Homo sapiens: one gene and its partners. The protein of the gene in region 1 interacts with the protein of each later gene in a pairwise test. Each region holds a gene or a part of one and is shown on either strand. Other genes may lie near its edges.

Region 1 (2,527 bases):
ACTGAGTGGGAAGCCCATCCTGACCAGCTGCTCCGAGGACCCAGGAAAGGCAGGATTGAAAATGTCCAGGAAAGTGGCCAAGAAGCAGTGGCCTTATTGCATCCCAAACCACGCCTCTTGACCAGGCTGCCTCCCTTGTGGCAGCAACGGCACAGCTAATTCTACTCACAGTGCTTTTAAGTGAAAATGGTCGAGAAAGAGGCACCAGGAAGCCGTCCTGGCGCCTGGCAGTCCGTGGGACGGGATGGTTCTGGCTGTTTGAGATTCTCAAAGGAGCGAGCATGTCGTGGACACACACAGACTATTTTTAGATTTTCTTTTGCCTTTTGCAACCAGGAACAGCAAATGCAAAAACTCTTTGAGAGGGTAGGAGGGTGGGAAGGAAACAACCATGTCATTTCAGAAGTTAGTTTGTATATATTATTATAATCTTATAATTGTTCTCAGAATCCCTTAACAGTTGTATTTAACAGAAATTGTATATTGTAATTTAAAATAATTATATAACTGTATTTGAAATAAGAATTCAGACATCTGAGGTTTTATTTCATTTTTCAATAGCACATATGGAATTTTGCAAAGATTTAATCTGCCAAGGGCCGACTAAGAGAAGTTGTAAAGTATGTATTATTTACATTTAATAGACTTACAGGGATAAGGCCTGTGGGGGGTAATCCCTGCTTTTTGTGTTTTTTTGTTTGTTTGTTTGTTTGTTTTTGGGGGGTTTTCTTGCCTTGGTTGTCTGGCAAGGACTTTGTACATTTGGGAGTTTTTATGAGAAACTTAAATGTTATTATCTGGGCTTATATCTGGCCTCTGCTTTCTCCTTTAATTGTAAAGTAAAAGCTATAAAGCAGTATTTTTCTTGACAAATGGCATATGTTTTCCACTTCTTTGCATGCGTTTAAGTCAGTTTATACACAAAATGGATTTTATTTTTTAGTTTAACTGTGTTTCTCCGACAGCTCACCTCTCTCTGACCACCCAGCCATTTCCTTCCTGTGCTCCACGTTCTTCTGTGTGATTAAAATAAGAATATTATTTTTGGAAATATGCAACTCCTTTTCAGAGATCAGGAGGGATTTATGTAGCAGCTATTTTTACTGCAAAAGTAATTCACTGGAAAAAAAATGTAATTTGTAAGAAAGCTTTATTTTTATCTCAGCTCTATGTAAAGTTAAAGTTACTGTACAGAGCTGAAGGACGGGGGGCGGTAGGGGTCTTGATGAAACCTCTTGAACGAAGCACAGTTTGTCCCATCTTTGTTCACTCGTGTGTCTCAACCATCTTAATAGCATGCTGCTCCTTTTTGCTCAGTGTCCACAGCAAGATGACGTGATTCTTATTTTCTTGGACACAGACTATTCTGAGGCACAGAGCGGGGACTTAAGATGGGAAAGAGAAAGCATCGGAGCCATTCATTCGGAGAAAACGTTTTGATCAAAATGGAGACTTTTGTAGTCGTTTCAAAAGAGCACCTGAGTCATGTGTATTCCCGGCCTTTATAAATGACCCGGTCAAGTTGGTTTCAAAGTCCGACAGGCTTGTCTGTTTACTAGCTGCGTGGCCTTGGACGGGTGGCTGACATCTGTAAAGAATCCTCCTGTGATGAAACTGAGGAATCGGGTGGCCGGGCAAGCTGGGAAGAGCAAAGCCAGAGCTGCGCTGCCTCAATACCCACAAAAGACCATTCCCAGTATACATAAGCACAGGATGTTTTTCTCAAGAGGGATGTATTTATCACTTGGACATCTGTTTATAATATAAACAGACATGTGACTGGGAACATCTTGCTGCCAAAAGAATCCTAGGCAGTGGCTCATTGTATGTGAGGTTGAACCACGTGAAATTGCCAATATTAGGCTGGCTTTTATCTACAAAGAAGGAGTTTCATGGGGTTCAGCCTAACAGTTATGGAAACTACAGTCCTTATAAACCATTGGCATGGTAATAAACAGATCTTAAGTATAAAAATTTTGTAATTGGGCCTTTACTCTCTCAATAATAAAGTATTTTGTTTATATAAATTCTTTGTGATAGTCCTCGTTCTTCCTCTCCACACCCAGCATGAAGGAGTTGGAGGAAGGATGTTAACCCCAGATCCATTCTCTACTCAAAACATTCCATCATCAAGCGGCAAGTCTCTGTTTAACTGGTTTATACACAAGTCACTTAGAAACCACAACCCAAATTGGAATCAACTTTGAGCCCTTCCTAAAAGAATTCCCAAAAAGTGCTCTCTTTCAAAACAAAAAATTCTTTTAAGAAAGTGTTATAATAGAAAGATTCAAATGTCTTTCTTTGCCAGAAGCTTGGCAGAGATAACAGAGGAGAGATTCTGGAATGTTTATATTAAGTACATTAGAATTTGAGGTTTAAGTACTTTTGGAACTGAGGCCACAACACTCTGTCCCCTCAGTGGAGTCTGACATTGGTAAGGTGATGGTGGTCTTAGGACACCTGTTTTCAAATTTGTTCTCTTTACATGCTCCAAAATTAGTGAGTATGCCAAAAAGCTTATATTCAT
Region 2 (3,500 bases), on another chromosome or scaffold:
AAGAAGTGAGGTATTTTACAAAGCTTCTTACATCAAAAGACGGCAGTTTTTGCTATGGGCCAGCTTATGCTGAGCACTTTGTATGTGTTGTCTCAATGAATTTTCATAGCTCTGTAAAGTAGGTGCTATTATTGTAGGCTTTTACAGATAAAGAAACTAAGACTTGGAGTCAAGGAACTTGCCAAAGTCTCAGAGCTAGTGTGCTACAAGTGCAGGATTTGAATACAGGTCTTATAACCCCAGATCTCGTGGCTTTGGCACGTGTCCTCTATAAAAGGATGCAGTACTTGAGTGACCAGGTAGAAAGACAGAAAAGGTGTTATTTTATCTCCCAGCTCCTCAAGGCACCAAATAAAGGTAAGCATGCGTATGTCTGATGCACCCTGGCTACCACTGGTCATCAGCTTCTGTGGTCAGAAGCAGAAGGAGTGGGGGGAAATCAGTCATCAAGCAGAGGTGACTGGATGCGGTTCATGGTTATTAATATTACTGATCAGTTAATAATGGGTCCAGCCAAGGATGGATTAACTGGTGAAGCTAGATGATCTCTCTCCTCCCTTGAACACATTCCAGCTCATAACTTTTCATTATTCATTACTTCAATCCTCCTTAACAGAAATAGTAAACATTTCTAGAAGCAGTTAACACCTCCAGGTCCTTATTTCATGCCCTGGAGCAATCACTTATTAACCACTTCCCATATTTCACAGTTTCTGAAAATTAGCTCCGCCAGAATAGAGATTTAATGTTTTCTTCAAGGATTAAAGAGCTCATTAGGAAGTGATTTTTTTCTCACTTTCCCATTGATTTTTCCGTTTCTGCTGAGACCATTTTGTTATGCAGGCTAAGAGTAAAGACGAAGAATCCTCTCTTTCATTCTTAGGTTGCCGCAAGACAGAAGCCAGGCTTGGGTGAGAGTTCAACACACATGGGAGCTGAGGCGAGCTGCACCCGGGTTACTGAACAGCCCTGCAGGAAATGCAGTGTGCTAGGACCAGGAGAGCCCCAGTTCCTCTGCCAGTTCTCTATGTTGTTTCTTCCTTAGGGAAAAACTGTAGTGTCATCCTGTGGTGCCATATATTCTAATAACCTCAGTATTTTTATGATATTTCAGTGTTCATCAAGTACACTCTCTTTCCCTCTCTTGGTATCTTTCTCTTCATCTCTCCCTCTGTCCATCCCTCCCAACCCTGTTCTATGGAGAACTGGCATATTGAAGTTCCCTGTCTCAAAGGCAGTGATTGGCACATGTCATCTCCAAAGAAAAGATCAGTGAAAATCGTGCAAGAAACTTGCTTTCTCTCTTCTTGTTTGCTGAACTCCCTAAGATGTGGAATCTGTTTTGTCTATAGAGCATCTTGCAGGTAGACTGTTCTCCAAATAACATTTGAGAAATGCTGGCTTAAATTATTCTTGGGTTTTCATTAGTAAGTAGAAGTACCATAAAGTATCTAAAACTCCAGTGGTGATTACTGGAATGGGTGAAGAGTGAATAGGGCAGGGTGGTGAAGTAGGAGGAAGACAATCCTTGGCATTAGACTCTCCTGGCTCCTCACTTCTTAGCCGTGCATCCTTTGGAGGTTACTTCATTTCTCTAAAGGTGGCTTTCTCAACTGCAAAATAGCACTGCTTACGCCTACCCCGTGAGGTGCTGTAGATCCTCAGCCTGTTGAAGGGTTGATATGGGCCTGGCACAGAGTGAGCCCTGTGGATGCTCTGTATCCCTGTCTCTCTTCACCTGCACATGTAGGCTTATCCAAAATGAGGACTAGAGGTAATAAAATTGCACCATGTTGGGATTCCTGCTCAATGAGTAAATTTTAGCCGCTCTTGTCCCAAAAACAGCAAAATGGGTAATTATGTGAGATAATGGATATGTTAATTTGCTTTTTCATAGTAACTATTTTACTATCTATATGTATCCCATAACGTCATATTGTGTACCTTAATATACACAATACACTTTATTTAAAAAAAAAAAAAAAAGGAATGATTCTAAGGCAGCTTGAATGTATTCTTTTATTCATGTGAGGGTCAACTTCTTGCAAAGCACTGAATTTTAAGCACTTTGTGATTTAGTTAAATTCTCCTTAACAGAATTAAAGTGATTTCAGTGATTCCCAAAGGCATTCTGTCTAGACTGAAGAAAGGAGAATTCTTCACTGGGGAAGGAAGAAATAATTGTCCTTGTCTTTGTCCTTCTAAGGAAGCTATTTGTGGAAAAGGGAAGTTCTCCAACTGAGTTGCTCTCTGAAGCTATCCCGGTGACCAGCAAGCACTCATCCTGCTTCTAGAAGTCAACAAGGATACACTGAACCTGCTTCTGATTTCTTTAGGGTCGACAAGTGCCCCCAATGATTTATGGTACAACTTCATTGAACTGCCCTACCACGGGGAAAGCATCAGCATGCTGATTGCACTGCCGACTGAGAGCTCCACTCCGCTGTCTGCCATCATCCCACACATCAGCACCAAGACCATAGACAGCTGGATGAGCATCATGGTGCCCAAGAGGGTGCAGGTGATCCTGCCCAAGTAAGTGGCCCCTTCCCCTCAAAGAAAACAGTGGCATTATTCAATCAGCAGGTGTTATGTCGGACACCAGACAACATGAGGCGAAAATATGGCACATCATGAAGCCTGTTCTGTTCTGCAGAAATTTCATGGTGGGATTACGAGGCCGTGCTTTTCTAAACGCTTTTATTCAATGCCTGTGCTTCCTGTATGGTAAGATATGGATCATAAGAAAGGAGAGAGGGCAACCTTGGTCTCTAAACCTCCACATGAGCATAAGCAGTTCATGGTACTGCAGGGGCTTTTTGACATATCTCATTGTATTTAAAAGACTGAAAACACACGTGTGTCATCATAGTATGGATGAAAGTACAGTGAGGTTTAATAGAACTCCATGTGCTTTCATAAGGAGCTTCATTTTAGTTATTTATTTATTTAACTAGAAGTTCATGAAGACCAAGGCAGCCAGTTTTTCTATTATACCCTAAGAGTAAGACAAAGATGGAATTTGAGCTGTTATGACTTGAAGCCATGGGAAAAGTAACCCCAAATCCTGTATGAATCTTCATGTTCTAACAGGTCAGAGAATGCTTTGTCCAGAACTGTGAAGAAGCAATGAATGTTGTTCCCTTTCTATGAACTTTTCAACATTGCTGCCTTCCCACCATCCAGAGCTTTTAACAACCCAGGTCTTGGTGGTAGTGGAGAGTTCTAATAGCTTTTGATTCTTTGGTCACCGAGTTAAGTAATCAGAGTAAGACATTCACAATAAGTATTACTAATTCTCTCAAGATTTTTTTTTTTTGTAAAATAAGCCTTCAAGTAGGCAATGCTTGATATAAATAAATAAATAAGATGGTGGCATCGTAGGCCTCAATGGGTGAAGAACAGGTTCTTTACCATTATAGCCCATCTGTGGTGAGAATCTGCCCACGTCTCCTTAGTGCTCTTCCACAGGATGAGATCAAATCTGATAAAGCATCCTC
Region 3 (3,500 bases), on another chromosome or scaffold:
CTTGCAACTAACTCATGATTCTTAGCTGATGTTGTGTTTCATGGTAGCCTGAGAACCTTTTCAAAATACAATACATACTTTATTTCAGAGTCTAAAATTGATACATCTTTGAAGAACAGAATTGTTCTAAAAGGATTTTGAGTTTATGACAGTGTAATAATTGAAAGAAATGTGTGTTATATATTTTGCTGTGCATGGTGGGTGGCGTGATTGGTTGGCTGTGAATGACTACTTGATGTCGTGATGTCCCAATTTGTGCAATATTGACATGGTACTGCAGTCTGTAGTGGACAATCTCAGCTGATGTCTGTGGTTTTAGTGGTATCACGTAAGCTATGATGCTTTTCACTTGTGTTTAGGCAGTATACAGCTGTTTCCTTAAACATTCGATTGTGATTTCGTAAATGTAGCTGTAGATATCACATTTTAAAACATCACCTTTTGAACAATTTTGTTCTTTTCAGTGTAAGATCTAGGTTTTCGAAATGTTATCCTGCAATAAGTCAAATCTCTGGTAGTTCAAAGAGATGATCTTCTCCCGTGTATGAGCTTTATTATACTTTATTTTGCCTTTAAGACATTTCTTACTACCCTTCAGTGAATGTTTTGAGGGTTTATGCAACAGATATTGTAAATTTCTCATTATTTATGTTATTACTTTTCTGAAAGATAGTCCTTGGCTATTTTTTAAACTTTACTGCACATATTAAAATATTAATTGAAATAATGATCATACGTGATGATTTTTTAAATTAAAAATTCATTTGGCCTTAAGGCTTGCAGACTATTTTGAGATGTATAGGGGCAGTTACTATTATTCCAGTGTGACATGATTTCAACACATTGATCAAAGTTTACAAAAATTAGTAAGTCATTTGCACTCTTAGGGAATTTATAATATACTGGCAGAGATTAAAATGATTTATATAATTATAACATAAGGCAGATGGAAGAGATTGTAGTTGGGAAAACAAGAAGAGGTTTTATGGAAGAGTAAGGTTTGGAAAGATAAGAACAACAGAAGCAAAGGAATGGCATAATACGAAGGATAAATTATTGAGTGACTGTTTTCTTTGCAAAAGTTACTTTTTAATCACAGGACTTCTTCATTAAATAACAGACACTCTTAGAATGTTGAAAAAATATAATATGCAAACATTACCTGTAGCTTTTCAGGAAAACGTACCTGGTATTCTGACATTCAATTTTTTTTTTAAATTAAAATACCAACAAAAGGTTGGAAATAAATGGAAAACCATTCATTTAAAAATTAGAAAATAATGTTGTATAACCTCTTTTATGGCATTTAGATATGTCTTAACTCTATTGTAGAATAAAATTTCAGTCCTAGAGTTATGGTAACACCAAACCTTGAAAATGATCAACCAGTTTATACATTTAGCAAATGTTGAACACATAGGTGTGCTAAGCTTTGTGGGTATTAAAAAAAAAAAAAAAGAATTACAAGACATAGTCTTGATTTCAGGGAGTTTATTGAAGAAGTGTAGGAACCTGGTAGTCTAATACGAGAGTAAAAGACACATACCTAACCACAGTAGGCCAGCTGTGCAATATTACCAGCATTTAAGTGGGAATTCAGGAAGACTAAGAGAACTTTTGGCCAGGGGAATCAAGGGGTTGGTTAGAAACATGCTTCTGTACTGGCTGGTTATTAATGTGTTAACCTGTGCTGAGAGGAAAGTGAAAGACAGAAGTCAAGAATTTAGAATGGACTTGTTTTCTAAGAGAAATTGGCCTTTTTGTTCTTGGAGTGTAGCTTCTTGTTTGTTTAAACGGATACATTTAAAACCTTGTGGGCTTGGGCTTAGTGTCAACCAGTAAGTGAATATAGGGTTTATAAGTTCTTATGTCCCTGCGTAGATTGTTAATTAGCCTTCTTGCTTGTAGCAAGAAGACTCCTAGCAACTACTCAGAAACTCTGGTAAGGTTCTGAATAATGTCTTCCCCAAAAATGGGAGGTCAGAGACCAACTACTTGTATGGTGTTGGTGAAATCACTTAAACATGTTTAGGTCTTTGATCTGTAAAAGAAGTTCTTAAAGATATTCTTTAAGTATTTAGACCACGAATGAAAATTATATGGACTTCTCTAGAGATTTTCAGGGGTCAAAAGAGAAAATGGACTAGAAACATAAAGTGGTTGTGTTGAAGTTGTAGGTCTGGAGTCTTTATCGTATATTGCTTCTCACTTGTATTTACAAGACTTGATCAGATCTCACTTGTATTTACAAGATTTGATCAGACCTCACAGTCGGGGAGTCTGACCTCCTTTCTGGCTCAGTAGATAGGCCATTCAGAGCATTTATGAAGTAGTGGGTCTAGGAATGAGTCTTTGGGCTTACAGCTGAGGAGAAGCCTCTTGATTAGGTTTTGGTCCTTGGCACCTGGCAGATGATAGTTGCCTGCGACTGTCATAGTACAGTATTGGGTGGGAGATGGGACCAGTGTGATGGTGTTTAGGTTCTCCTTTCGCAGCTTTCCTTTTCCCGTGCAATGCCTTTATTTTAGTTTCTGTTCTTAGGATTTGGGCTATTTAAAATATTACTTTAGAAATTATAATCAGATTATCTTAACTTGGATCTTGGTAAATTTTTAGAACAAATCAGAGTCTCAGTATTTAATTATCTGAAAGAGCACAGGATGTTGGGTGACAACCATAATGGCACAGTAGAAAAACAAGTCATGCCTGACCAATTTAATTTCCTTCTGTGAAACCAAGGCAGTACTTAAAATGGGATATAATATAGAATATCTAAAATTCAGATTTAGTCAGACTTCTCTAGCTTGTCAGTTTTTTTTTTTTTTTTTTTTTTTTTAGATGGAGTCTCACTCTGTCACCCAGGCTGGAGTGCAGTGGTGCAACCTCTGCTCACCACAACCTCCATCTCCTAGGTTCAAGCGATTCTCCTGCCTCAGCCTCCTGAGTAGCTGGAATTACAGGTGCGTGCCACCATGCCAGGCTAATTTTTGTATTTTTAGTAGAGACAGGATTTCACGATGTTGGCCAGGCTGGCTTGAACTCTTGACCTCAAGTGATCCTCCTGCCTCAGCCTCCCAAGGTATTGGGATTATAGGCATGAGCCACTGCACCCGGCCATTTGTCAGTAATTTTTTAAAACAAATTTGGAAGCCAAATATTTCAGTAGAAGTTTTAGGGTTTTCAGTCCTTTCGAGTTTGTAGAATCCTTTTGCATTATGTTAGTGCTCTGAAACCCTGATCCATGATGTAACTTGGTATTGAGGGACAAGTACATCTTAACAAAGGTGACATGACTATATTCACTCTCTCTTAAAGATAGCTCATGTAATCCTGGAATTTGATGTAAATATGAAACCAGTTGCCTGCACTTCTTATTTTTGTGTGTGTGGGTTTTTGTTTTCTTAAATTTCTTTTTTTTTCGTTTGCCTGCAAGTTTTACTCTCAAATCCTCTCATTTCATGATTCCTGAGGCTTCCTTTAATGCTATCTACCCCTAGTCC

What was found. Proteins that work in one complex are often made in the same cells at the same time.
Region 2: the proteins of ETS2 (region 1) and SERPINE2 interact in a two-hybrid assay, tested with the Homo sapiens proteins (one large-scale study listed by BioGRID and IntAct).
Region 3: the proteins of ETS2 (region 1) and DMXL2 interact in a two-hybrid assay, tested with the Homo sapiens proteins (one large-scale study listed by BioGRID and IntAct).

The regions. Positions count from the first base shown.
Region 1 is NC_000021.9:38,822,929-38,825,455, forward strand, and holds the end of ETS2 (protein C-ets-2), read left to right. Parts: 3' UTR 1-2,027; downstream 2,028-2,527. UniProt on the Homo sapiens protein: Transcription factor activating transcription. Binds specifically the DNA GGAA/T core motif (Ets-binding site or EBS) in gene promoters and stimulates transcription.
Region 2 is NC_000002.12:223,983,787-223,987,286, reverse strand, and holds part of SERPINE2 (glia-derived nexin isoform b precursor), read left to right. Parts: intron 1-2,336; coding exon 2,337-2,535; intron 2,536-3,500. UniProt on the Homo sapiens protein: Serine protease inhibitor with activity toward thrombin, trypsin, and urokinase. Promotes neurite extension by inhibiting thrombin. Binds heparin.
Region 3 is NC_000015.10:51,616,272-51,619,771, reverse strand, and holds part of DMXL2 (dmX-like protein 2), read left to right. Parts: intron 1-3,500. UniProt on the Homo sapiens protein: May serve as a scaffold protein for MADD and RAB3GA on synaptic vesicles. Plays a role in the brain as a key controller of neuronal and endocrine homeostatic processes.